Linked DNA regions of Homo sapiens. The protein of the gene in region 3 interacts with the protein of the main gene of each other region in a biochemical or structural test. Each region holds a gene or a part of one and is shown on either strand. Other genes may lie near its edges. The genes, in order: ARHGAP32, INPP5D, CRKL and SASH1.

The links.
Region 1: the proteins of CRKL (region 3) and ARHGAP32 form a complex in vitro, tested with the Homo sapiens proteins (one study listed by BioGRID).
Region 2: the proteins of CRKL (region 3) and INPP5D form a complex in vitro, tested with the Homo sapiens proteins (one study listed by BioGRID).
Region 4: the proteins of CRKL (region 3) and SASH1 interact in a test that uses a peptide from one of them, tested with the Homo sapiens proteins (one study listed by BioGRID).

What each region holds. Positions count from the first base shown.
Region 1 is NC_000011.10:128,965,313-128,972,336, forward strand, and holds part of ARHGAP32 (rho GTPase-activating protein 32), read right to left. Parts: intron 5,848-7,024; coding exon 3,595-5,847; 3' UTR 1-3,594. UniProt on the Homo sapiens protein: GTPase-activating protein (GAP) promoting GTP hydrolysis on RHOA, CDC42 and RAC1 small GTPases. May be involved in the differentiation of neuronal cells during the formation of neurite extensions.
Region 2 is NC_000002.12:233,055,807-233,063,357, reverse strand, and holds the start of INPP5D (phosphatidylinositol 3,4,5-trisphosphate 5-phosphatase 1), read right to left. Parts: upstream 3,017-7,551; 5' UTR 2,880-3,016; coding exon 2,746-2,879; intron 1-2,745. UniProt on the Homo sapiens protein: Phosphatidylinositol (PtdIns) phosphatase that specifically hydrolyzes the 5-phosphate of phosphatidylinositol-3,4,5-trisphosphate (PtdIns(3,4,5)P3) to produce PtdIns(3,4)P2, thereby negatively regulating the PI3K (phosphoinositide 3-kinase) pathways.
Region 3 is NC_000022.11:20,920,383-20,927,406, reverse strand, and holds part of CRKL (crk-like protein), read right to left. Parts: intron 1-7,024. UniProt on the Homo sapiens protein: May mediate the transduction of intracellular signals.
Region 4 is NC_000006.12:148,527,836-148,534,859, reverse strand, and holds part of SASH1 (SAM and SH3 domain-containing protein 1), read right to left. Parts: intron 3,335-7,024; coding exon 3,199-3,334; intron 2,064-3,198; coding exon 1,894-2,063; intron 1,090-1,893; coding exon 880-1,089; intron 110-879; coding exon 1-109. UniProt on the Homo sapiens protein: Is a positive regulator of NF-kappa-B signaling downstream of TLR4 activation. It acts as a scaffold molecule to assemble a molecular complex that includes TRAF6, MAP3K7, CHUK and IKBKB, thereby facilitating NF-kappa-B signaling activation.

The DNA.
Region 1 (7,024 bases), on a different chromosome or scaffold from region 3:
AAATACACAAGCTTATATGCATTAACAATTTACACCAGTTCACAAAAATATTAAGACATAAAAAAACACTATATAAATTAAAATTAAAAACTCAAAAGTATGATCTAAGACTTCCTAGGATGCTTCTCTCATGCAGGTCATGGTTGAAAAATCAGGTTTTGCTATCTCAGAATCTAAACTGTAAAACCATTTTTATTCTTTGAACATTAACAGTACTAATCAGATAAGGAAAAAAGACCCTCTGTGCACACTGACATTATCTTGCACACGTTATAATACACCATTCCTGACATTTCTGTAACACACAGTGCTGAAAATCACATGCCTCTAACCATGTGGAAGAAGTAACTGTCTGACATACTTTTGCTTTCATTATTACTTTCTTACACATTCTGCTCAAGCAGTACTTTGCCAACATCCTAAATGGGTGACTGACAGGGCTGAAAACAGAGAAATGGACTTTGCAGGCTCCTTCTTTAACTAAAGGGGCAAATTTCAAATTTACATCGTTTGCATCTATTACTGCTCCAAATGTGGTAACCTACTCCTCCGTCCCCACTCACGTTAGTTAACAGTCCCTCCTCTCTACAGAATTAGTCCTAGAATTTTTCAACCTGACCCTAAATTTTAAAAAATGCTTTGCCATTGTAAGAAATGTGCAGGCCCTAGTCGTGGGACCATCCCAGGGACTTGCAGGTTTGAAACGAAATTGAATATAGTAAGAAATAAGGCTCCAATGAAATTTATTAATAAGAAAATGGCACCTCTGGGATTGTTAGCAAAATTTTTAGCCAGACGTCCAGGGAATATTTATTTCAATCAGACCAAACTGTGGAATCAGAATTTTGCCAAAAAGATAAAATCTGGAGGCATGGCTATGAAAATGTCAATAGGATTAAATCACGGGTTTAATGTATAAGGCAGCTCCATTTCCTTGATCATAATGCTCCATGTCAAAATTTGAAAGTAATAACATTCAGTTACCCCATTTGTGAAGTCCCCCATTTGTGAAGTCACACACAAGGTGGACTGTGCTGAGGTATCCGGCTCACAGTGATTTGCCATCCGGTTTCCACCCCACAACATTAGAAAGGGAAAGATGCCGGAAAAGTGTTTCAAATAACTGAATCCAAAGTTAAGGCTGTTGCTAGCATGCATTAAATGAAGCAACTCTAGATTTGATCTGAAGTTTGTGTTTCACGCTTGTAACAGTAATTGCAATCATCATTCTGTATTCAAATATTTACCTGATATTTCTAAACCCACAGGACATTTATTAATAAAGAAATTGTTTCGAGGAATTAACCCTACTATTTATAAAATAGGTTTTAGTTTCAGGACTAAACAATGTGTGTGACAACAAATCCACAAATATTAAAACTGGACCGGACTCCCTGGGTTACTTTCTTTAGGCTCTCAGTTACTTAAAGCCGTGTGTATCTCCTGGTCACAGCAGCCCCTCTTCCTAATCTCCATGCTGCTGGTGAGAACTTACAGGGCTGGTGTGGTCTCCAAGGGGCAATGGGTTGCCTACTTGACAAGAATATGATTAAGGTAAAAAAAATTAGTGCCACATATTCACCAAAGGTCATACTCCTGTATGTAGCACCCAGGGTGTTTTTGTGCCAAAGGGAAGTATCCTATCAGGTTTCCTAGCACTTTGACTGTAAAACAGTTGGTTCTGCACTTTTAATGTAGAGGCCTCAATTTCCACAGACCTTTTCACATATGGGTGTTTCAAGGTTTCTACTACAGTTTTTACTGCATCCCTCCAATGAATTCTAAGGGAACAAAAGAAAACCTTATAGAATATTTCCACATATCAATGTGTTGTTCTTGAAACATTTTATTTTTTTCTAAATATAAACCCTTAAAATGCACATTATTTTTTAAAATAAAAACTGGCATGAATCCTAATCTTTATACAATTTCACAGCAATAATAGCAGCATGATTTTAGCCTCTTAAAAGATTTCCTCCTTTGCTCTAAATAAAAATTAATTTCAAGTTCTAAAAAGCCAGAGCAGCAACCATCCAGTAATTGGAATGCAATTCTCCTAGTGTCTTCTACAGACCGAGCATTTAAAATACGTGAATGTATAAAACTTGAGTATTATTAAGAGTTATGGAATGAAATGACAATCTAAACTCGTTTTGTAAACATAGGACTGCCTTGCTAGTCTGATGTATTTTGGGGGGTGGAGGGAGCTGAGAACATAGAATGGAGTTGGGCTAGAGAGTTCCTACTCTAATAAGGAATGCAACTTTCAAAACTCGTGGGTGTTAAACATGTTTTACATGTCTCCAGAGTTATAAAGAGCTATACCTGAAATGCTGGTGTAGATGGTAATTACAAGAAGACTGTGACCACACAAGTATAGAGTAAGCAAACGACAGTAATGCCTTAGGACAGCAATAACTGCCCAGAACTCCACTGGTGAAACGGGGCTGTGAACTAAGCAGTTATTGCAGGAACTTGCAGTCTAATAATAGATAATGCGTAGCTACTTAAATTCCCAGGGACCTCGTACTCTGGTTTAGGAACAGAAACAAACATGGAAATTTATATTCATAATAAATTATGCGTGTCTATCCAGTCAAACCATGCTGGGCTTTTTTTTTTTTTTTTTTTTTTAATGAAAGAAAGTTGATAATTTAGGAAAACCAATGGTATGACATGTTTTACTAGAATTACAATTCACCAAATCTTATTGAGGGGTGGGGTAAGAAGAAAACCTGAAGGCAGGCAATGCATTAAAAGCATCAATAGAGATTTCTGGTGCTAATAAAGTTCACTGACAATAAGAACTTTACTTTCTTCCACCTAAAGAAGTTTCCTTAAGTACTAACTTTTAAAAGTCCATTCTGTCATGATATGAGCCTGTTCACTGAACCGTGAGGAACAAGGATGAAAAATAAGAATAGAAAGAGTATGGTTCAGCCTGAGTCTAAGTGGTCTGGTGTTTTATGATGACTCTACCAAATGTTTAATTTAAAGTCTTAATTTCTTATTTTTAATTATAATGTTGCCAACTGTCTGACTGACCTTGAAGGATCAGGGATTTTTCCACGACTCTAACTGAACACAAGATCCTTCTCAGACGGGGAGAATGAAGTGACAACAGTGTGTCGATCTGCGCAAGTTGTGCAGCTACTGAAGGAGAAGCAGGAACACAACAGGGAATGCAGACGCCTACCAGGAAATCGATGTGAACTGCTCTCAATTATGCAGCAAATACTAAGAAGAAAGGACAATGCTGAATTCAAATTCAGTTAAAGGCAGTCCTCAGGCTCTTTCAAGCTAGCCCTAGATGGCAAGTGTGTCCTGAGACAGGTTTCTCTACTGGGTTTCAGCACGGGGCTTTACCATCCTTCAGATCTTTTCTAAAGACAAAAATGACAAAGTCTATAGATGGAAGAGGGGGTAATGAAGCAGGGAAGGGGAAAAAGATGCTGATTTGTTTACTTTTATTATCATTTTTTAAATGTGGTCAGGGGTTTTATAGTATTTTTTGTTTAATCTTTTTGGTTATTGAAAAAAATAGAACAGTCCACTGTCCAGCAGAGGCTGCTTCAACTCTATTGCTCGCAGGGCTCATTCTGCATGGATCTGTGTTTCAGGATGCTGCAAGGACAACTCTGCGGGCAGGAAGGCCCCTTGACCCAACGCTGTAGCATAGGTCCTGCTCTGTGGATGGGGAAAGCCAGGGGGCACATACGTCCCCATGCCGCCCCCTCCAAAGACTCCTCGCTGGTGCTGAGGCAGGGAGTGGTAATCTTCCAGGTTATCATACTGGGACACAACAGTCACACTGCTCTGGCGCTTGCCGTGTGGTTGGTACTGGTACAGCACACTGGGGTCCCTCTCCACGTTCTGGGTATGATGGAGTTTGAGGCTATGACTCCTCTCTGGTTTAGGGGGTGGGACGATTGACTGAGTGAGGTGTTCTTCCTCCTTGTAGCAGTCTCTGGAGTGTTTCTCTGGGGCAGAAGGCTGCCTAACCCAGGGTCGCTCCATCTCTTTGGAGAGCCTTACCTCTTTGTGGTTCAGTCTTAAAGATTCTTGCCCGGATGCAGCATATTTTACTCCAGAGTTGTGGTAGCTGACTGGCTCAGAAGTGTCTGGAATCCCTTTGGACCCATAATCTAACTGGCCAGCTCCCTGGGGATAAGGGGGCCCATTCTTTGACTCACAGAACTGCCTATGGCTTGCTTCTTGGTGTGCCCTGTGCTCAGGAAGACTGCAGCCCATGTCAGGAAGCTTCCTGCTCCTCAGGCTGCTCTGCTTCTGAGGCAGGGATGGCTTCTCCGGCTGCGTGCTACCATGGCCTCCGTGATGGTGGGCTCTGTCCATCTCTGCCTCGGGATGCCTCCTATAGAAGCGGTCCTCTCCCTCGGGACTGATGGCCTTGGCTGCATGGCGGCTCTCCTTTCCTTCTGCCACTGAGAGAAGTCCAGTTTTCCCAGGATCTGATTTACTACGCAGATGGATGACATAGATCCCACCCAAGTCGTCCTGCACCGCCGGGGTCATGTTATCATATTGGGACATGACAGGCCCTTTCACCTTCTGCCGAGCACGGCTCTCTCTCCGGATGGACTGCATGCGGTATTTTTCCATGTCCTCAAGATCCCATGAGGTGTAGGTGTGCTTCACATCAGCAGCCGGAGGCATGCTGACTACATTATGGTCGTTGGGAGAGAAATAGCCAGTCACGTTGGCCCGGGGACGTGGAGCCAAACCAGCATAACTGTACAAGCTCTTTCCTTGCAGCCTAGGATTGTAGAAAGCAAAGTCTCGATTGGGAAGGCGGTGAAGGGGTCTCAACTGGACTGTGCCATAGGCATCCACATCACACAGGGCCCCATCTGGACTGTAATAGGAACTAGAAGAACTGGAATATGGGCTATACCTGTAGTGGACCCGGCCATTCTCAAAGTAAGGCTGAAGCTGAGTGACATGATAATCTGAGCGGGCCTGGGAGGACTGATATGGCTTATATTGGTACAGAGGTCTTGGGCAGTAGGCTGGCTCATCATCTGGGGGAACTTCTGTCCGTGAAATGGGAACAGAGCGAATCATGGAAGACGGCGGAGCATGGAGAGACTGCACTCTCCGGATGGTAGGGTACGGTGGAATGTCTTCGGGGTAACAGGTATTCCTGACAGAGGAGCTCAAAGAAGACACATACTCGACCCGGCTGCATGGCTTGGAGTGGTGTCCAGATGCGTTTCTTCCTGGGGCCACATATGTGTTATAACGAAGACCCATGGAGGCTGGTGGCTCTGACCTGGCACCATACACTTGGTGCTGCTCCAATTTATTGTGATGGGGAGGTACACTCTGGGGACGGTACTGGCAGTTTGGAGTCATATTGAAATGCAAACAGTTATCTGGACCAAAGGGTTCAGTGGTGACATCGGGCCTAGCAAAGGAGGAGTAAACTGTTTTCTGAGAAGCATGCTTAGGTTGTGGGACAGGAAGTGGTAAAGGCAATGCATCGTCCACAGAGGTGGATGAAGCAGTGACAAAGGAATGATAATTTGAACTGCTGGTGGCATCTGCACTGCTGGAGTGTATGGCAGCAATCATCTTACTCTCCATCATCCTGGTGGGGGGCAGTGGTGCAGGAAAGCCACAGGGATGCGCAGGGACAGACTCGGCGCGCAGGTGCAGCAGCGGGACCCGGGCACCGTCCCGCACTTTCTCAGGCAGGCCTGGCTGGACAGCTGTAGCCATGGGACACTGAGCAGCAGCAGCACCACTGTCACTGATGAAGGCAGACGCAGGGTCATCCATGGCTCGAGGTTCAGGTGGCCTCTCTGGAACTGGAACTACTCCTTGAACCTATTGAAAGATGATAATACTATGGGTCTATTTTTTGTTCCCTCTATGAATCAAGTACTATTAAATTTGTAACTCACAAATTAAGGCTGGTTGGGTAGCAGCTTGAACTTTCCCAAGCCATGTGGTTGCAATGAATCTGTACCCATTTCTAGGAAAAGAAGGCTTGTGCTGCTATTTTGTACAACACCCAGTATTATCTTTGGAGAACCATTCAAAGTTTTCTAATTTATGAGAGGTTTTAAATGCGAGATGAGGTTGCCTATGGCATAATTTTAATATACAAACCAAAAGAGAGGTTTAGTCAAGTAATGCTGTAGAGCTTAAAAATACATACCCGGTCTATTAGTCTAGCTCAGTCTCAACACAAAGGACATCTTGTTAAATTAAGAGTTAATTCTATCATCTGGGGAGACTTTTGAAATTCACAGTTGTACACAGTTAGCAGTTTTAGGGCTTCAAACATAGGGAAAGGCAATATTCAAATCAGAAGCTACTGCCTCTCTCCTACCTTTGATTCCACCTTAGTCTGGCCAAAGATAATCCTCATACTGAAAACATGCTATCCTTGAGAAGCAGTAAACACAGCATCCTCCACTAAGGTCTAAAATCTTAAGTCCTATTAATAGTTCAAGGTGACCATATAGAAGAAAAACAACCTGTGGCACTTTCTTAAAATATGAGGAAATTCAGGAAGAAACCTTAGCATTCTGCATACTACATTCTCTCATTGAAACAGGCACCTGACTATGGGACAAACTGCTGGTGAATGCTAGGAAAGTAACAAAAAATCCCAAGGCACTATAATCTCTTATACTTCCAAAAAGTCTGCAAGGCAGACAGTCTTACGAATGTTTTGAGAATGAAGTATTTTCATTGTGTAACTGTGAATAATTGGCAGAGGGTAGGTAAATGACTTGCCCAAAGTCACAATGAGTCAGTGATGGAGTTGGAAAAAAATAAGAAAAAGCAACCCACAACCGTAAAGCCCACTTTGTCTCATTTGATCCTGATCTCTTTGTGTTACTGGAATAAACTACCGAGACACTTTAGGAAGAAAAGGGAGCAGGTACAGTTAAGCTATAGTCATCTAGGAGCTACTCCTTTCCTGGGGAAAAGCCAGCATCAAGGTAATGGCAGACTCCAACCTCAAATGGGAACTATCTCATGGAAACCAGCC
Region 2 (7,551 bases), on a different chromosome or scaffold from region 3:
CTGGGAGGGAGTGCTGCTGGGGCCCAGGCAGGATGAGGTCAGGGCACCTGGGTGATCTGAGGGGCCATGGGGCAGGTATACTTTTCCCATGGACTTTGCTAGGGCAGGAGGGTGAGTGTGTGGCTTCCTTCTGCAGTCACTTCTAGAGCAGGGTGGCTCCAGGCTTCCAGGGCTAGGGGGGCAAAGCCTGCTACTTCTGCAGCCGCAGAAAACCCGGCTGCCCTGCACACCCCTCAGCCTGGGACTGTCTGCCTCTGCCGTCTCCGTCAGGCCACGGCGACTCTGCAGGGAACACAGAAAACTAAGGGTGGTAGGGTTTGTTTTTCAAGAAGTTCAATCTCTTTGCTTTAAATGACTGGCTTTTTTTTTTTTAATGCCCTTCCTGCCTCTTTTGGTGTCAAAGGCTGCTTTCTTTCAAGAAATGAGGTGTTGGAAGATGACAGTTTGTTATCATTCATTTAATTAGTTTTTAGTTTTAAAATCTCCGTAATTGGCAAAATCCAGGGTGGCAGCCATATGAAGCCTGCAGATGTATGGAAAGTCTGCAGGTCCATAGCAACCCACGGCCTACAGTGGAGCCTGACCCTGCAGGAAGGGAAGCTTCCCACCCTGAGCAGAGGAGAAAGGGAAACACTGAGCCCAGGGTTTGTCTGGCCAAGGGGTGGGACTCCTGGTGTTTGCAGCCCAGCAGCCTCAGGATAGGAGGCTGACGAGGCTTCGGCTGAGAGGATAGTGGACATCTGTAGGCACCACAGGTCCCTCTCTAAGGAGCAGACACTGCACACCCATCATGACTCTGAGAGAACTCAGTGCAGACAAGGGTTCAGAGAGAAGAGGTAGAGGAAGGAATACGAGAACTGGCCTGGATCCCAGCAGTTTTGACCCCAGCCAGCATGGTGGACAAAGGCCTCAGGCTCTCTGCCCTCTGTCTACCTCCTGAAAAGCCAGGGCTGTTGCACCAGAGCTTCTCCAAGGCCTCTCCAGCTCTGACTCTGGCTCAGGCTAATCCTAGACGTTAAGATGCTCACGGCTCGGAGTCAGAGAGACCCACGCCCCATGTCTGTAACCTGAGCAACCACAAAGCAAGCCCTGGTCAAAGGGCTGTGTTGAAGGTTAATGAGATGGGGCCCTGGAAGCCCTCGGCTCAGCCAACACCAAACAGCCAGGACAAGATCCCACTGGGCCAGGAGAGAAATCCAAGTAACCCACATGGGCCAGGTGGAGTCAGACTGGGCTTGTGAGAGGCCTAAGAGAATCTTCCTGCTCCTTCTAAGGCCCCGGCAGCAGCAGGTCCCCACTGGGGAAGTCCAGGCAGCCTGGGCCTGCGTTCCTTCCCCTGAGGCATGAGAGAGGGGACACAGGAAACCAGTCTTTGGAGGTGGGGCTGCAGACTGTCAGCACAGGCCAGCGACCAGCTGCGAGCCTGGCTTGGTTTCCAGTGCCCCAGCTGACCCTGTAAACACTGTGGCTCCCCTTGCTTCTTTCTCCAGCCCTGCAAGGCTACATGCCTGCCCCGCTGGACTGGGAGCAGGAGAGGTTGGGCCACAGGCTGCTGGTCTCAGCTGCAGCCTCTGGGGGCAGATGGCCGTGGCTTTGACTGTTGTCACTCACTTAACCTGCCAGGGCCTCAGATTTCTCATCTGCAAAGTGGGGCTTTTAACAGGACCTTCACTTTAGGTTGTGGTGAGGATGAAATGGGCTAACAAATGCTTAGCACGACAGGTCCCAGCTGTGAGTCAGTATTCAAAACAGGTCTGGGTTCATCACCCAATTCCCCTCCTGCCTGGAGAAGCACAAGGCCCTGGCTGCTCGGGGGAACATTTCTGCCAGCCCAGGGATGCTACTTGAGATGTTCAGGTGGACACACATTTCCCTGACTACACTCCGGCACTGCCTGAGGCCCCGGCAAAATGATTAGACCAAGAGCTGCAGGGCAAGGCCCCCCTATGATTAGACCGAGAGCTGCAGGGCAAGGGCCTCCTTCAGACGCTGGACAGGAAGGGGGTTTTAGAAAGGAACCTTCAGCAAGTGGCTGGTTCCTCCATTGTTAGCACAGCTGGTACATTCAGTAACATCCCCAACCGGGCAGTGGGAGGAGTTGATGGTGACAGAGACCCAAATTGAGGGGGTGGGGGGTGGGCAGCGGTCACAGCCAAGTGCTCAGGAGAGAGAAGAGGCTGCTCGCTGGTGGTAATGGTGACTTCCTCTGCTCTCAGGCCCCTGAAAGCAGCTTCTGACTGAATGGAAAGTCCTTTCTTGATTAAACTCACCCCATATTCTTGGCTCGCCAAACAACAGCTTCCTCCAGGGGCCCGAAGCCTGGGTGCTCCAGGAAGGGTCCCCCTTGCCACCTTTGCTCTTCTCAGGGTTTCTGAGCTGGGCATCTTTGAGCTGATCTCTAACACACCCACCTCCACAGAGCCCTGAGCTTCCTCCTGGCTCCAAAAGCCCAAACTCCCTTCTCTCGGTCCCCAGACTCCAAGGAAGCCACAAGGTCCATACAGCTCATGGGAAGCTGGGGTGTAACATCAGGCCTCAGAGTGGTTCTGACAGCTCCAAGGCTGCAAAACCTGCCATGAGACCAGCTCTCTGAACTCCAAGGACAAGGTCCATGACAGGGTGGCGGGGAAGTGTGCATGTCAGATCACTCTGTCCTGTGACATAAGAACAACCCATCTCAAAGCTGGGCCCCCTCTAAGCCCCTCTGTCATATCTGTGCCCGGGGAGGGAGCAGGTTGTACTCACAGCACGCAGAGCGCGTATGCCCGGGAGATGGACTCGCTGGCACGCACGAGGAAGCTCCCGTCCTTGCCTGTCCTGGAAAGCAGCTCCTCCGCCTTGGAGCGGGTGATGTTGCCATGGTTCCAGCAGGGGACCATGGTGGGCGTGGGCCTCCTCGGCCGGGCCGGCAGGCACCCCCAGGACCCACACACCACCGAGGGGAGCGGAGGCCCCTCCACTGCAACCTGCCGCCCGTTGCCTCTTGGTGGCCTCGGCTGCTGCCACCAGCTTAACTGACTGACTTCCTGTTTCAGGCGCTCAGTGAGGGAAAGGAAACTGAGCTGCGGAGAACTTCCTCATTACAGAAACCAAGCAAGAGAGAGAGAGAGAAAGAGAGAGAGGGGGGGGCCCTGGCCGTCCACCGTCCCCTACACCCTGCCACGGCTGCCGCGGCTCTCTTGCCAGCCCTCTCCTTCCTGGCAACTGGTCGCAGCGTACAATTGAAGTGTCCAGTGGCAGCTGAAGTCCCCCTGGGTGGAATGACCGGCTCTGGAGACGTCAGGAGAGTTGTGGCCACTTCTGAAGAAGCATGGCCTAGCAGGCATGGGTGGGCCAGAGAAGTGGTTCTTCTGCGGCCGTGCTGACACCCACGTGGGATGCCATGCCCTAGACAGGCCCCCGAGCCTTCTGCTCTCCCTCAGGGCTTTTCAGCACCCACCCTGAACCTCCAAAACACCCAAGGGGGCACAGCTTCTCAACTGGGACTACGGCCTGCCCAGGACAGAGCAAACTTGAGGGGGAGGGGACAGTCGAGCCCCACCCCTCCCCTTTAGAGACTCCCAGCGGCCTGGGTGCTGGGAGACCTTGGCTGCCACCAGCCGAGGGCGCCAAGGTCCAAGTGATGGCTCTGTGACCCCATTACCCTCATTCCCAGGGGCGGGTGGGTGCTGCACGGGCAGCACAGCTCTGATCCCTGCAGTCCAGCTTGGAGACACACAAAGGGAGCTTGGAGGGGATGTGGGCCGTTTACAGCGGGAACATAGGCTGGGTTTTTCCCTGGGCTTCTCCAGGATGCTGGGGAAACAAGCTCGGAGAGGAGAACCCCAAAGCCCCACAGGGCAGGCTGGCCGCCTGGCCAAGGACAACACTGGGTGCTGAGTCCTGCGTCTCAGCAGTCGGGGTGGCCGGTCGGACTGCACCGCCTCCAAGACTGGGCATGGCCACATATGCCCACCACTCAAAGAGGAGCTGCCTCTCCAGGGACCGCCATCCAGGACCAGTCATTTCTGAGGGCTCTGCGGTGGACACCCATCCCTCAGCCCCCAGACCTGGGCACCTTCCGTCCTTGGGTCCGGCCCACCAAGGCCGAAGGGGCACGTGTTGACCCGCTGCACAAAGAGTGCCCCCACCATCCCACATCCAGGCCTTGGCCTCCAGGACATGACAACAGACTCCCTCCAGGAAGGGGCACCAGCCAGGCAGCGCCACCACATTCAAGCTGTGGGAACCTGGTCAAGTTTCTTCTCTCTCTCGGCCTTGGTTTCTTCTTGTCTAACTTGAAGGACGTAGCTCGTAAAAGAGCTCACATGTGCCCAGGGGCTCAACATGTGTCACACTGATGGTTGTCCCAGAACAGGGCCCCCAGCACCTCCCCGCTGAGCAACACACATGGCAGGCGAGTCTGTAGGGCAGACAAAGCACTCCCAGTCAAGGACCTCTGGCCAGGCTGGGAGCCAGGCGTGGGGATAGAGTGGTGATGGGAACTGGCCTCCATGCTCCGGCCCTTCCGCAGCACGCCACCTCTGCAGCAGCCCAGTGTGGAGGCCTCTCATTCCCCACCCACGCCTCCACTCAGCACCTGTCCACCCCCTCCTTATGGGGTCATCTCCTATGCTCCCATTGTGTACCTTCACACCCTTCTCACTTCCCTGCTGGCCTCCACCAACATCCATGAAGTCCTGGACCACGCCACCAGGAGGATCCATTTGCAATACTGGTCCCTTTACACCTCCACCCACTCATCTCTAGAGACCCCTACCATGCCAAGACTGCCCTACTTAGAGAGCTTCCCCCAAACCCCCAGCCCCCCACCTCTCACACCTCTATTCCCACGGTCCTTGCCATTCCACAGAGTGAGATCCCCTGGCACACACGCCACACGGGCACTCTTCCCTCATTTTTAAGGCCCATCCCAACTTTGCTTCCTTTTCCACCCAATTGCCTGATCTATCCAGCATGGTCAGCTGGCTTGTCCCCCACCCTTCTGCCCTCCACATTCAGGAAATCCCAGTATCTAGATCAGAGCTGCCCTTTTGGTGGGTGGATTTTTTTTTTTTGTAGGTCTCCAGTCAATATAAATAATTTTAACGTATTACAAAATTCACAAACTCATGTGAGGGATAGTGATTTATCAATGAAGACTTCAAATAATGGCTAGAGAGTGGCCAGGCACAGTGGCTAACACCTGTAATCCCAGCACTTTGGGAGGCTGAGGGGAGTGGATCACCTGAGGTCAGGAGTTTGAGACCAGCCTGGCCAACATGGTGAAACCCTGTCTCTACTAAAAAAAAAAAAAAAAAAAATCAGGTGGGTGTGGTACGTGCCTATAATCGCAGCTACAGCTACTTTGGAGGCTGAGCAGGATAATCACTTGAACCCAGGAGGCGAAGATTGCAGTGAGTCGAGATCGTGCCACTGCACTCCAGCCTGGGTGATAGAGCGACACAGTAAAAAAAAAAAAAAATTACTGTTCCAAATTTTATAGCATAAAGGTAGAACCACACATCTTCCAGCCATATTCTCTTGAATGTGTTAGGCCATAATCACTGCATTCCTACCTTGAGATCCCATTTGATGATGATTGCACCCTGGCCCTCCACATACAAGAGCAGTCTCACTCTCCAGGGATGTCTGCCTGCATCTGGCTTGGCAGGATCAATGTGGAGAGCTCAGCATCACCACATGGATGGGAGGTGGGAGATGATGCTGATGGGAAGAGCCCGTGGGTGTATCGGTGCTGTGGAGCAATGTCCTCGAAAGACGTTGGAGGAGGCAGCTGCCTGATAGTGGACAGGAGCCTCCAGAAGGGATAAGGGACTGCCAGCTGCTGCTGGCAGGGGTGATGAGGGCCTAGACCACCTGCCACTATCCTTGCTGTCCTCAATGCTCGGGGCCACTCAAAGGAGAAACCTGCTCCCCAGGCTGTGCCCAGGAGTCACACCCAGCCATAGGGCCCCAGAGCGATTGCATAGTGTGAGTCTATGCATTCCTTGGAGCATCTGGTCAACCTCACCCATGGGGCAGAGGCTTGGAAAGCAGCTGAGGGGAAGAAGTGGGGTCAGACTCACTCATGTGATCCTGGGTCCAGACTGGGGCACCTGCCCAAAGGCACTGCCAGCCCTGGCAAGCCCCAGGCCCCATCAGGGGACTTGAACAATTTCTGGGAAAGCTGGGCAGTGAGAAGCATCAGGGTGGTCTGGCAGGCACCTGGTCATGGGCACTCAGCCAACTCTAGAAGCTCCGGGAAGAACAGACAGGCCTCAGTGTTGAAGAGGAGGGCTGACATGGCAGGGCCAAGGCATTGGAGCAATTCTGCTTTGGCAACCTTAAGTGAGGGCGGGTCACAGGAAGGTTTGAGTCTCAGGACAGGGTCAGGGCAGGCTGGGAGAGAGGGACAATGGAGACACCAAGCTTCTTGTCCAGGGGTCCTTCCACCGTGGACAAGAAACAGAAAGAATTTCAGGGTCTGAGAAGGGACTGAGCCAGGAGAGGGGAGGCAGAGGTCAATATATACTGTATATATATATGTGTGTGTGTGTGTGTATATATATATATATATATACACACATACACACACACATTACATCATATATATAGTGTGTATATATATACACACACATTATATATATATAATATATATTTACTATACAATGTTAACAGATATACAATATATCTAAGCATTTGTCTCTGTACTTCCCTTCCCCTCCTGTGTTCATCGAAGCCCTTTACTATGCCCCAGGGCTCCCACTCCCCCCAGCCTGGGTGGATAGATAGATATCACTCATGGCTTGGGGTGCAGGGGCTGAAAGTGTTCACTCACTGAGTGCTAAAAGCAAAGGGAGCAGTGATGGTTAATTTTATGTCAACTTGGCTGGGCCTCAGGACCCAGATATTTGGTCAACATTATTCTGGATGTCTCTCTGAAAGTATTTTTTAGATGACATGAACATTTAAATCAGTAGACTTTGAGTAAAGCAATTCCTGTGTGTAGGCCTCATCCAATAAGCTGAAGGTCTTAATAGAAAAAGACTGACTTCCTCCAAAGAGTAAATTTGCCAGTAGATTGCCTATGGACTCGAGCCGCAGCATCAACTCTTCCCGGGGTCTCCAGCCTGCCAGCCCACTCTACAGACTTTGCACTTGCCAGCCTTGACCATCCTATGAGCCAATTCCATATCTATCTATCTATCTATCTATCTATCTATCTATCTATCTATCTATCTATCCATACATCTGTGTATCTCTCTAGCCATCCACCTATCTATCCACCTATCTAGCCATCTATCTATCTATCCATCTATTTATCTATCTAGCCATCTATCTAGCCATCCATCTATCTATCCATCTAGCCACTATCTATCTAGTCATCTATGTATCTAGCCATCCATCTATCTATCCAGCCATTTATCTAGCTATCTAGCTAACCATCCATCCATCTATCTATCTAGCCATCTACCTATCCATCTATCTAGTCACTATCTATCTAGCCATCTATCTATCTATCTGGCCATCCATCTGTCTAGCCATCTGTCTAACTATTACCTATCTATC
Region 3 (7,024 bases):
CAGCCTGGTCCAATATGGTGAAACCCCATCTCTACTAAAAATACAAAAATTAGCCGGGCATGGTGGTGGGCGCCTGTAATCGCAGCTACTCAGGAGACTGAGGCAGGAGAATCACTTGAACCCGGGAGGTGGAGACTGCAGTGAACCGAGATCATGCCACTGCACTTCAGCCTGGGCGACAGAGCGACACTGTCTCAAAAAAAAAAAAAAAAAATTCAATTCCAAGATGAGCTAAGTACTTCTCTAGTGAAACTGCTTTAACCACCATTCTTTTTTTTTTTTTTTTTTTTTTTTTGAGACGGAGTCTTGCTCTGTCACCCAAGCTGGAGTGCAGTGGTGCGATCTTGGCTCACTGCAATCTCTGCCTCCCAGGTTCAAGCCATTCTCCTGCCTCAGCCTCCCGAGTAGCTGGGACTATAGGCGCACGCCACCATGCCTGGCTAATTTTTTATATTTTAGTAGAGACAGGGTTTCACTGTGTTGGCCAGGCTGGTCTCGAACGCATGAGCTCAGGCAATCCACCTGCCTCCGCCTCCCAAGGTGCTAGGATTACAGGCGTGAGCCACCATGTCCAGCCAGTAACCACCATTCTTTATCACTGACCAGCATTTAATGCCCAGGTCCCCTCCCTTCTGTCCCTGGGCTTTCAGGCCATCACTAATGGCTCCTCCTCCTATGCTTGTGGCTGCCTCTCCTTCCGCAGCTTCTCTTTCTCTACTTATTCCTGTTCTGCCTCCTCATTCTGGGTGATCCCATCTAAGCTGCGATTCCCAAATCTATATGTATTCAGCCCTTACCTCTCTTCTCAATAACAAACCCATCAGATTGCTAAATACCACCTGGCTTCCAGCAGGTACCTCAAAGAAAGATTCTTCCTGTTGAAAAGAATCACGCACCCACCCTAATCCCTTTCTCTTGTCTCAAAGGCACCACTCAATCCTCTCTGAAGTCATCATACCTCTCCCCTCACCTTCTATGTGCCACTTTACATTCCTATGGCATTTGATCTTGGCTCAGCTTCTCAGGGTCCCTCTCCAGTAACAGAGAATTAGTCCTTCAGATCTTTCCCCACCCAGAGCAGTTTCTCAAAAGTAAAACTCATCAGTTCTCCTTTTAAAATCTGACAGTTCTCTTTTTAAAAACTTTAGATGGCTCCCATTGTTAAGCTCATTTACAAGGCTGAGGAGGCCCTTTACAAGTTGGCTTTATCTTTCCTTCCTAGGTTCCTGCCCATCATCTACATTAATTATAACTGTGTCTTTACCAGCAAGCACTGCCACCATCTCTTCTACCACCACCTCTTCTACCTCGTATACTTGTTCTCATCCTTAAAGAATCAGTTGAAGAGCATCTCCTCTTTCAAGCCTCTCCCCACCTCTTAGGTACAGTTGATTGCCTTTGCTTTTAAGCTGTCATGGCATTCTAATTTTTTCAATAGACCAAAGCTTCTCAAAGACAAAAATCAAAAACAAAAACATGGTTTACTTCCATTAGATTCCAAGAGTCTAGCAGTGAGCTTTGGTATATTGTAGGCCTCTATATATCAAAGAACTTCCCTTTCCTATTTCCCTCCTTTTTTGTTTCTGAAAGCACAAAAGCTCAGGTATTCAAATTACCTAACTCTGGTTTAATACTGTCACAAAACTGGTGTGACAGAATTCGAATACCGTTGAGTGTGCACCTTCAAAGCCTCTTCTCATCCTCTTCCACTGTTCTTGTCACGTTCATTCCAGGTGAGTTGCTATGTGCCTGGTGGCCCCACCCAACTTGTTATGATTTTAGCTCAGATTCAACTCAAGTTAATCTGAACTCCCAACTAATAGGCTGTGCCCCCTTTTACTTATCTGAAAGAATTAAAATAATGTTTTTTGTTTGTTTGTTTTTTGTTTTCCGAGACGAAGTCTCGCTCTGTTGACCAGACTGGAGTGCAGTGGCGCTGGCGCAATCTCGGCTCACTGTCATCTCTGCCTCCCAGGTTCAGTCTCGAACTCCCGACCTGCCAGACCTCCCAAAGTGCTGGGATTACAGTCGTGAGCCACCACGCCCGGCCCAGAATTAAAATATTTTAATCTTAAAGACCCTCAGAAATCTAGTCTAATCATTCAGATCAAAAGGAAAAATTTAGGTCACAATTCTGTGGATTTGAGTTTTAAAAGTCACAAATCGAATGGCTACTAGTACTTTCCATGGGAACACAACTCTTTTTTTTTTTTTTTTTTTGAGACGGAGTCTCGCTCTGTTGGCAGGCTGGAGTGCAGTGGTGTGATCTTGGCTCAGTGCAACCTCTGCCTCCCAGGTTCAAGCGATTCTCCTGTCTCAACCTCCGGAGTAGCTGGGACTACAGATGCATGCCACCACGCCCAGCTAGTTTTTGTATTTTTAGTAGAGACGGGGTTTCACTATGTTGGCCAGGATGGTCTTGATCTCCTGACCTCATGATCCGCCCGCCTAAGCCTCCCACAGTGCTGGGATTACAGGCGTGAGCCACCACATCCGGCTGGGAACACAACTCTTAATTGGACAAGATTCCATTCTCAGCATGACAGTGTTCTTGTTTTTTGTTTTTTTGGAGAGAGTCTCACTCTGTCGCCCAGGATGGAGTCCAGCTGCACGACCTCGACTCACTTTAACTTCCACCCCCCAGGTTCAAGTGATTCTCCTGCCTTTAGCCTCTTAGGCACACGCCGCCATGCCCAGCTAATTTTTTGTATTTTAGTAGAGACAGGGTTTCACCGTGTTGCCCAGGCTGGTCTCAAACTCCTGCACTCAGGCAATCCACCCACCTTGGCCTCCCAAAGTGCTGGGATTACAGGCGTGAGCCACTGCACCTGGCCATGTTCTTGTATTTTTCTCTGAATCAAATTCACATGATTTTAACTACTGGTCAGGAGAAACGCAAAGGGGTTTATTCACAGAGTTGAATTCTATGCTGATTAAAATTACTGGCAATCCTTTCCCCATTCCAAATTATGGAAGTCTAGATTTGAGTTCTTAAATAATTAGAACAGGGGATGTAAAGAGGAGGCACAACCATGCTTCTTGTTTCCTCCTGTCCCTTCAGGGATTGGCTTCTACTTCACAGGTGTGTGAGGCTCCTCTTCTGGGCTCTCAGGTTAGACTAAGCACCCTTTCTCAGTTCTCCCACAGCTGTTTCACCATGCATGGAGATTAAATATATTAAATATATACAACTTACATTCATTCATTCATTCATTTTTTGAGACAAGGTCTGGCTCTGTTGCCCAGGCTGAAGTGCAGTGGCATGATCATAGCTCACTGTAGCCTCGACCTCCCATGCTCAAGCAATCTTTCCACTTCAGCCTCCCAAGTAGCTGGGACTTAAAGGCGCATGACACCATGCTCAGCTAATTTTTTAATTTTTTGTGGGAATGGGGTCTCACTATCTTGCCAGGGCTGGTCTCAAACTCCTGGGATCTAGCGATCCTCCTGCCTTAACCTCCCGAAGTGCTGGGATTACAGGCACGAGCCACCGAGCACAGCCAACCTTTACATTTTTTTTTTTTTTAGTAGCCAGGCGCGGTGACTTACGCCTGTAATCCCAGCACTTTGGGAGGCCGAGGCGAGCAGATCCCCTGAGGTCAAGAGACAGAAAACCATCCTGCTCAACATGGTGAAACCCCATCTCTACTAAAAATACACAAATTAGCCAGGTGTGGTAGCGCGTGCGCCTGTAGTCCCAGCTACTTGGGAGGCTGAGGCAGGAGAATCACTTGAACCTAGGAGGTGGAGGTTGCAGTGAGCCAAGATTGCACCACCACACTCCAGCCTGGCAACAGAGCAAGACTCTGTCTCAAAAAAAAAAAAAAAAATGCCAGGCGCGGTGGCTCATAACTGTAATCCCAGCACTTTGGGAGGCCCAGGCGGGCGGTTCACGAGGTCAGGAGATCGAGACCATCCTGGCTAACACGGTGAAACCCCGTCTCTACTAAAAATACAAAAAGTTACCCGGGCATGGTGGCGGGCACCTGTAGTCCCAGCTAACTCAAGAGGCTGAGGCAGGAGAATGGCGTGAACCCAGGAGGCGGAGCTTGCAGTGAGCCAAGATCCCGCCACTGCACTCCAGCCTGGGCGACAGAACAAGACTCCGTCTCAAAAAAAAAAAAATTTTTTTTTTAGTAACCAGTAAGCTCCTCAGAAGCATGATAGGGCTGTCTGATTCAATGTTGGTTCCATATTACCAGGTACATGTAATGCTCAAAGTCTGCTGAGTACAGTACATTATTTTCTTGAAGGGCCAACTTCCTTTAGTTTTTAATGGTAAAATTTTATTTATTCTAATTTTTCTTCATAGCCTGAATTTATCTATCGACACAAGCTAGAAATGGAAAATGTCAAACAAAGCAAGCTACCTTCTGAAGCATTCTGTTGTTAAACTGGAAACAGCCCTTATTAAATAAAAATACACTAGAGCTAGGCCAGGCGCAGTGGCTCACACCTGTAATCCCAGCACTTTGGGAGGCCCAGGCAGGTGGATCACTTGAGGTCAAGAGTTCAAGACCAGCCTGGCCAACATGGTGAAACCCTGTCTCTACCAAAAATACAAAAATTAGCCAGGTGTGGCAGTGCATGCCTGTAATCCCAGCTACTAGGGAGGCTGAGGCAGGAGAATCTTAAACCCCAGAGGCGGAGGTGGCAGTGAGCCCAGATTATGCCACTTCACTACAGCCTGGGGGACAGAGGGAGACTTGGTCTCAAAAAAATAAATAAAATAAAATCCACCATAGGAATACCACAAATACAAAAAGCAGTTAAAGATAAAAACACAGAAGATAACAAAGTTACAAATAGACCAAATCATCCCTTCTTCCCTTTCCCTTCATCCCCACCCACCAGCAAATCAATTTTATCTCCAAAATAGGCATCTCCAAGTCACAGCTCCACTGTCACTATTAGTCACCATCATTTTGTAGCTGGATTACAATAACAGCCCCAGGTCACTCCTCTGCCTCAAATTCCTTCCTTGGAGCCCACAGCACTTTAAATAAAAACCCAATTCCTGACCCTGATCTTTATCTCCAAACTCATTTTATATGTCCCCCTTTCTCCTTTAAGAAACACACTCCCAGGCCGGAGAGGGTGGCTCACATCTGTAATCCCAGCACTTTGGGAGGCTGAGGCAGGTGGATCATGAGGTCAAGATATAGGGACCATCCTGGCCAACATGGTGAAACCTTGTCTCTACTAAAAATACAAAAATTAGCCGGACATGGTGGCGGGTGCCTGTAGTCCCATGCAGTCCCAGCTACTCAGGAGGCTGAGGTAGGAGAATCACTTGAACCTGGGAGGCAGAGGTTGCAGTGAGCCGAGATTGGGCCACTGCACTCTAGCCTGGCCACAGAGTGAGACGTCATCTACCAAAAAAAAAAAAAAAAAAAAAAAGCCGGGCGCAGTGGCTCACACTTGTAATTCCAGCACTTTGGGAGGCCGAGGCGGGCGGATCACTAGGTTAGGAGATCGAGACTATCCTGGCTAACATGGTGAAACCCCGTCTCCACTAAAAATACAAAAAATTTGCCCGGCATGGTTGCAGGCGCCTGTAGTCCCAGCTACTCGGGAGGCTGAGGCAGGAGAATGGTGTGAACCCAGGAGGCGGAGCTTGCAGTGAGCCGAGATCGCACACTCCAGCCTGGGCGACAGAGCAAGACTCCGTCTCAAGAAAAAAAAAAAGAAAAAAGAAAGAAAGAAAAGAAACACACTCCCAACACAATGGACTTTCTCACCTCAGGACATCTACATAAGCTTTTCCCTAAACTTGGAAGGCTCTTCTCCTCCTCTCAGGCCAAGCCTTGCCTAGGCTGGGTTCTTCTTTACCCTCAGGTCTTAGCTTCATGCTTTCTCTGACCACGCCACCCCAGGTAGGTCCCTCCTGTATATTGATCTTACTAGTACTTTATTTTTCTACTTTTCAGTCTGTCTTCTCCACTACAGTAGGAGTTCCACAGGAAGAAAGTATGTCTGTCACACATCTTTCCCAGTACCTACACTGGGTTACACTGGGTTATAATTCTCTTATAAACATTTGAATAAAAATATAAAATTAAAAATTATGAAGCATTCTAATGAAAAGGATAAGACTATAACAATGCAAGCCACCAGTCCTTAAATTTCGAGTAGGACATTATTGTTACAAATTTTAGCTATGCAAGATAAACCAAAATATTAGCCAAGAGGCATGAAACTCTGGCTTTAAAAGCTCAGTTTTGATGCCTGCAAAGTTAAGCCACTAAATGTACCCTGTTTGGGATGCGAAGAAGCATTACACTGAGTTTTCCGTTTGGCCCAGGCTCTAGTAGTCACTAGCTTTCTATAAAAGGCTAATAACATGTTAAACCTAAGCCATGAAAACCAGGCTTGGGAGTGGCAATTCGAAGATTCAGTATAACAAAGTAAACTCAGTCAGGATCTAATTCAACCAGCATGGTGATCTCCTTCAGAGATACCTAGGAAAATGAAAAACTAAATTAAAGCAACAGGCCTGAGGCAGAGGGCACAGAGAAGGAGAAACAAAGCTGAACGTGAGGGGTAGGGTCAGAGAAAGGCCCTATAATCTGTGAGGGGACTGGAACAACAGGTAGGATTTCAACAGATGGAGAGTGAGGTGTAGTTAAGGCAGTCAGTGAAGAGCCAACAGCTGGAGCAAAGGTGCAAAGGTACAAAGGTATGAGTAAGGAAGGATGGCTACCAGGGAATAAGTGAGCAGCCTAGTACAGCTGCAGTAAAGGAAGGACGAAAGAGGGCAAAGACAGAATTACATGCTTGTTCTCTAAGAAGATGCATGCATGTACGGAAAATCTGGAGGCGATTCTGTGGATAGAGAGAAGCGGCATACTTCTTTTCCTTCCTCTAGAAGGAGACTCAAGTCATTAACTTTTTCCTTTTTTTTTTTTGAGACAGAGTCTCACTCTGTCACCCGGGCTGTGCAGTGGCGCGATCTCGGCTCACTGCAACCTCCGCCTCCCGGGTTCGAGCGATTCTCCTGCCTCAGCCTCCCGAGTAGCTGGGA
Region 4 (7,024 bases), on a different chromosome or scaffold from region 3:
CTCTGTGTTCCGGGTCCCTGATATTTAACTCATCCAAGTCTTCCTCCTCCAGCAGCTTAAAGGTGTCCAAATCTTCATATCCATTGAACAGGAAAGTGGGCATGTGCTCCTGTGAGAGGGAGAAGGAAGACAGAAGGGTGTCAGCCAGCCCAGACACATGATAACACCGCCAACAACTAGCCTGCAACCCACACACTGTTCCCATAGTCACCTTCAGGCTAATCAAAAGATTAGTAAGTATCATTTGCAATGGATCCTGTACATCCCAGCCCTCTGGCTTAGTAGGCAAGCAGGGTGTTTTATTAATCATGGGTTAGGAAGATGTACATTGCAGGCTGTGATGGATTCTGCTGGCTTGCACTATAATTGTACTCTTGATAAGAGCTAATTCCTTTACCTCCACAGAGCCCACAACAGAGGAGACTCCTCCTCCACTTACAGAGCTATTAAAATCCAGCTTTTAAGTCCTCAGGATCAAGAGTTTTGCAAAGAGGAAACATAATCTCTCATTGCAGACTCATGCTAGTAGATGCCTGGAGTGATGGTGGGAGAGAGGTGGGCGCAGAGTTTCCTTGTGGCCCCTGTGGAGCTAGCTGCGATCAAGGTGCCAGGAGTTTCTGCCTACAGCTCTTCCAGCAGCAAGGTTTGACCCGGGGCTTACGCTATCACCCACAGCTGAGGTCAAGGGCAGTGTTGGAAAACTGGTAACTAACTAACTCTTTCTGTAGAATAATGAATGCTCATCATAGTAACGAGCTGCCCTTATTGGACCACACAGATCAGCCCCAACCCTACCCTAAAAATGCCCTCACTTGCTTAGTGTAGGAGAGAAAAAGGCAGTGAGGTAGTAGCGTGTGACAAGAATCAGAAGCGACTGACTTTTAGGTTAATCCGATCCAGGAGATCCTCCACAGACTTGGGCTGGGGTGGTCGTCCTTTCCGACGCCTCCTGGTGGGGCGTTTGGGTTTCTCCTCGTCTTCACTGAGCACGTCCACGTAGATGAACTTGAACGTGCCGACTTTGTTGTTCAGCAGGCCCATCCAGGTCCCCATGGGTGGCTTGCTGATTATATCGATGATATCTCCTTTCTGTGGCCCAGGGAGCAAAGATCTTTCCATTAGGTACATTCCATGAACGTACAAATCAAGAATCTGTCAGATACACAGGTCATGCAGAAGTGAAGATGCCACAAAGGCCAGAATCGGGGTCCCACAAGTCACCCCTCTGAGTGACCTGCATAGGATGTGACTGTGAGCTCCGCAGAGGCCAGACAGGTGTCTCTGACTGTACGGAATTCCACGCAGGCCCCCGGTCACAGCCCCTCCACCCTCCTGCCCTGCAGAACCAGGGGTGCCTGGGGTACCCCTGGTGCTCTCAGCCAGGCTGCCCGCCCGGCACTCTGAACGCCTTCCCTCCTCAGAGGGCTCCCACTTCTTAGAGGAGGCACTTCCCACCTGTCCTAACCAGTGGCAATCCCGGCCCTGTCATGGCTGCACACACTTTGTGGAACCCCATCTGTCCCATAAAGGTACCTCTGAGCACACAGAAGGCAGAAATCTTTCTTCAGATGGAGAAAACACAGAAACCAGGTGTGTGGAGCAGGAGCCAGGTGGGGAGAGGGAGGGTGTGCAACAGGAATTCTAGAGGGAAGCTGAGGTCAGAGGGGTGAAGTGATGCTAACCCAGGGATTAACACGAGACCCTCCCTCTGCCTCGAGGGCTGGCTGGTTCTTGTTCTGTTTTTCACTACAGAGGAGACCAGTGATCGAGGTAGCCAAGATACTGTCCAGTCTGTACCATAGTAGCCCAGCATTCAACAGTGAGGAGGAAAGAAAGCCTCCTAGAGAAATGGAAGAGCCCAGTTAGCTGCTCTGAGGCCAGGGAGAGAGATACCTTGAGCTTGAGTGAGTCTGTGTCATAGGGACTGGGGGTGAAGTCGGTGTGCACCCTGGCACGCCCGCAGAACGGGCCTCGGTAAGGCGGCTCTTCGTCATCCCCATCTTCCGACTTGACGCTTTCCCGGTTGCTGGTTGAGGAATCAGTGGTGCTCACTGTTTGACCGCCTGTACAGGAAACATAGGAAGAACACGGGTAGATCCAGATTTCCCACCCAGCAAAGCAGAAAGGTATTGAAGGTATGGCAGATTAGGAAATGAAGGCCCAGAGAAAGGAAGCCTTGAGCCACAACCCTCTGTCAGGACCAGGGCAGGGCCCAGTTATGAATTCTCCGAGTGCTATCCCTCAGCTCCTCAGTGGACAGGGGACTCACAGCAAGTTACCCTCATGACCTGGGAATCCATGTGGCACGGAGGATCCCGCGTGGAGGACACTGCAGGGCCAGGCACCAGACTCTGCTCTTAACATTCGTGACCTCTCAGTGGTAATGCACACTCTCTCTAACCATTTTACAGATGAGGAAACAAATTCAGAGCAGTCATGTCATTTGCCCAAAAGGGTAAGAAAGAGCTTAAAGTGGTAGGTTTAAACTTGATCTCGGGGCACGGTGGCTCACGCCTATAATCCCAGCACTTTAGGAGGCCGAGGTGGGCAGATCGCTTGAGTCCAGGAGTTCCACCAGCCTGGGCTACATGGCAAAACCCCGTCTCTACAACAAAATTAGCCGGGTGTGGTGGCATGACCCTGTAGTACAGCTATGCGGAAGGCTGAGGCAGGAGGATCCCTTGAGCCAGGGAGGTGAAGGTTGCAGTGAGCTGAGATCACAACACTGCACTCCAGCCTGGGAGACAGTGAGACTCCATCTCAAAAATAAAAATAAAAATAAAATAAAGTTGATCTTTTCCTTCATACCATTCAGCCAACTCCAACTACCATTGGCCCGAATTTATCAGTCACATATAAAATTCCCCTCCCTTCCCCACTCCCTTTATTTTGCTGGTCATCTTCATGTGCTTGTCTCCCTGGCTTATTCCCCCTGCTCTCTAGATCCTTCCTCTGAGATGCTTTCCCTATTGTCTCCGATCAAAATTCATCACCTCCTGTTTTGGGCTGCTGCTGCTGCATGTCTACTAATAAACAAACACGACTCTGAGTCCAGAGAGTTTATTGGTCTGATTCTCTAATAGCACCTGAAGGGCAGGACTTGGTCTTATTCACCTTGAAATTGCCTGAACCTAGTGCTCAGTATATGTCAGATATTAACTCCAAAGAAAATAATCTACAATGACAAACTCGACTTACTCATGGAGCTCTGCCCACTGAGAGAACTGCGAAGACTTTCTACAGAACCCCCGGCCTTGAGCTTGGGCTTGTCCAAGTGTTCGGGGTCGGGCTGTGAAGGCGGAGGGGAGCCAGGCATTCCATCAAGGCCCGAGTCCTGCCATGGGTTTCAACAAAATGAAGAAGTTCATCAGAGTGGACAGGTGTTGTTTTGTAATTCTCAGCGACTTGGCCTTCAACGAAATCAATCAAATCAATCTATACCTATATTTGATTCTATAACCAATATTCTCCTCCTCTTAAACTTACATCCTCGCTTACTTTTAAAGTCGTGGCCAATGTCACTATTTATTAAGCACTCAAATACTATTTCTCATTCTCGAATAGATATTCTTGGAATCTCCAAGAAAAAAAAAATCTGTCTACCACACAGACAAAATACTTAAAGGTTTAGAGACTCAGCATACGCAAAAGCCCAGTAGCAAGGCTGGACTTCAAATGTAGATCAAGTACAATCCATGATTACTAGAATACCTGGAAGTGTAGTCAGAGGATATTTAATCTACTTGGATAGGAAACATGCACTTTTAAAAAAGTGTATTCCTGGAAAAAAAAAATTGGCTAGATTCTTATATTTCTATTTGTACAAATTATTGGCATTGGATAAGGAAACATGAATTTAAAACCCACATATACAGCAAACATACTATTTTCCAGTCTACCATAAAATTTCCATATGTTACTCTAAAGTTTTAGCTTCTTTCACTTTTCTAAAGTGTTGTCAGTAAAAAGCTGGGAAATCTCTTTCACACCAGAATCCTGATGGGAGTGACTCAGCAGTACTTCCTGCATTTTGAGTAGCTAAGTATTATCCTCTCAGCGGCTCCTCATTTGCACATTTGAGTATAGCATGCTTATTTGATTCGTGGTGCTACATCAATAGACGATATCACACTTCAGAAAGTTTGCAGTGAGAATTGTTTACTTGCCAAAATAGAAAAGTCTCTGGCATATTACATATGGCCGCAGCCACACGGGCTCAAAACCAGCTAAAATGAAACCTGCTATTTGCATGCTGCCGAGTCATCAGAAGGGCCTTAACACAGCTCCGCAGGTCCTGCAAACATCTGAGGACATCAGCAACAGCAGCTTCTGATCCAACACACATTAGTGCTTTCAATGTGAGGAAAGTGAGCAAGCGACCTCAAAAACAACAAAGAAAACTAGAGCTGACATTATTAGGAAGTTACTGAAGCTCCAAAGTATGAATTCCTTAAAAAAAAAAAATTCATTCCTCCTTTCTGCGTCATAAAATAAGTAACTTTTTTCCCATTAAAATCTTCTGTAATGCTTCTGAAAAAAGCACGCAGTTTGAAAAACAGCAATAGTAAATGTGGGTCTCTGATATATTTTCAAATGCTTTAAAAAATTATTAATTTATTCATCACATGTTTATGAATTACCTACAATAACAGGCACTAATCCAGGTATTGGGCATATAGCAGCAACGGAGAAAACAAATATCCCTACCATAATGGTTGGTATATTTACTAAAAAGTTTTTTTAAAAAAACACACAAGGTGGGCGCAGTGGCTCATGCCTGTAATCCCAGCACTCTGGGAGGCTGAGGTGGGTGGCTCACGAGGTCAGGAGTTCGAGACCAGCCTGGCCAACGTAGTGAAACCCCATCTCTACTAAAAATACAATAATTAGCCGGGTATGGTGGCACGTGCCTGTAGTCCCAGCTACTCAAGAGGCTGAGGTGGGAGAATCGCTTGAACCCAGGAGGCAGAGGTTGCAGTAAGCCGAGGCCACACCATTGCACTCCAGCCTGGGTGACAGAGTGACACTCCGTCTCAAAACAAAAACAAAAACAAAAAAAAAACAACCACATAAAACCTTCCATTATTTTTGCTTTACAGAAAATTTATAATGATCAGTTGTTTCTTTTATTCCTTAACTTATGTGAAATGGCTGCTTTAAAAAAACAGAACTAAGCACATAAGATTGCTATATGGTAGTAAAATTATTGAAAAATGCCAAAATGACATTAAAATTCTATGCTTCTGATTCATAAAGCAGAAAACCTCTGTGAACGTAAAGCTTAAGAGTTTTAGTGGCTGTTTCAATCTATCTTGGGGAAAAGCAAACTTAATAAAATGCTTTCAATTAGTAGCATGCTCTCACTAGCATGCTGACTGCTTCATTGCTGGGAAGAAATATAGAATCACTATCACTCCGTCACCCACAAGGACAAGAGAATGAAAAGAATAAAGAAAAAAAATCATGGATAAGACATGCTGAAGGCAGTCCAGACATCTATCTCCTGCAGGTCTAACAAGCCACGGTTTCTCAGCCTGAGCACTGATCATTTTGATGGACAGCTCTTTGCTGTGCAGACCGTCCTGTGCATGCTAAGATGTTTGGCAGCGTCCCTGGCCTCTATCCTCTAGATCAGCATTCTCCAACTCCCGGGCCACGGACCAGAACCCGTCTGTGGCCTGTTAAGAAGTGGGCCGTACAGCAGGAGGTGAGTGGCGGGTGAGCAGGCCAAGCTTCATCTGTTTTCACAGCCACTCTCCATTACCCGCATTACTGTCTGAGCTCCACCTCCTGTCAGATCAGCGGCGGTATTAGATTCTCGTAGGAGCACGAATCCTATTGTGAATTGTGCACACGAGGCATCTAGGTTGCACGCTGTTTATGAGAATCTAATGCCTGATGATCTGTCACTGTCTCCCATCATCCCCAGATGGGATCATCTAGTTGCAGGAAAACAAGCTCAGGGCTCCCACTGATTCTACATTATGGTGAGTTGTATAATTATTTCATTATATATTACAATGTAATAACAATAGAAATGAAGTGAACAATAAATGTAATGCATGTGAATCATCCTGAAACCACCACCTACACCAGCTCCGTGGAAAAATTGCCTTCCACGAAACCAGTCCCTGGTGCAAAAAGATTGGGCACTGCTGCCCTAGATGCCAGCAATATCCACTCCACTTCACCTCAACCCAGTCTGACCATTGAAAGACATTGCCCTGGAGTCCATGGGGGAGCAAAATGATAGCCTCTCACCCCTTCCCCGTGAGAACCACTGTAATCAACTGAAGCTGCTGTGCAGGCTTTGTTTGAATCAAGTGAGGTGGGTGGCAGGCTGGTGACGTTCGGTCATTCGCATAGGGGCGATGCTTGGTTTTAGCTCACTGTGCCCACCAGAGAGCAGCAGCTGAGCAAAAATGTCTGCTTTTCCTGCTGTTTTTATTTGGTAGATAAAGTGCATTACCTACATATTTCAAGCAGACAACCAGCTCATACACAGGAACTTCAACAGGCTACAAAATGAGTGCTATACAGGTGCTGGAGGAGAGTGTCTTGAAAATTGAATGGTCATAATTACCTTGAGGCCCAGCTCTCCAACTATCTTTACTCCCTCCACCCATGCAATTTAGACAGAAACAGTCATTTCTCTAGCAATGAAATTATAGATCCAGGGGGGAAAAATCAATTCTATGATACCTTCCTTCATGGCTACAGATAAGGCAAATGAGGGAAAACACCCCTCTCTGAAACATTATTACCAAAGCCTGGTACCCAGGAAGAACTTTGAGTTTATTTCTTAGACTGGCTATGTGCTTCTAGAACAACTTATGCTATGATCGACAAGTCTACTGCCACCCCCCCCCCCAAAAAAAAAAAGCTTTAGGTTTGATTCAGGTAACATCCATTTTGTAGCAAGGCATAGTTTAGAAAATAAAATCCTTCCTTTGTATTCAAATTTACAACGCTTAGTGCACTGAAGAATAACCATTTCTTTACATGTCTGTCTCTCTTGTCTGTA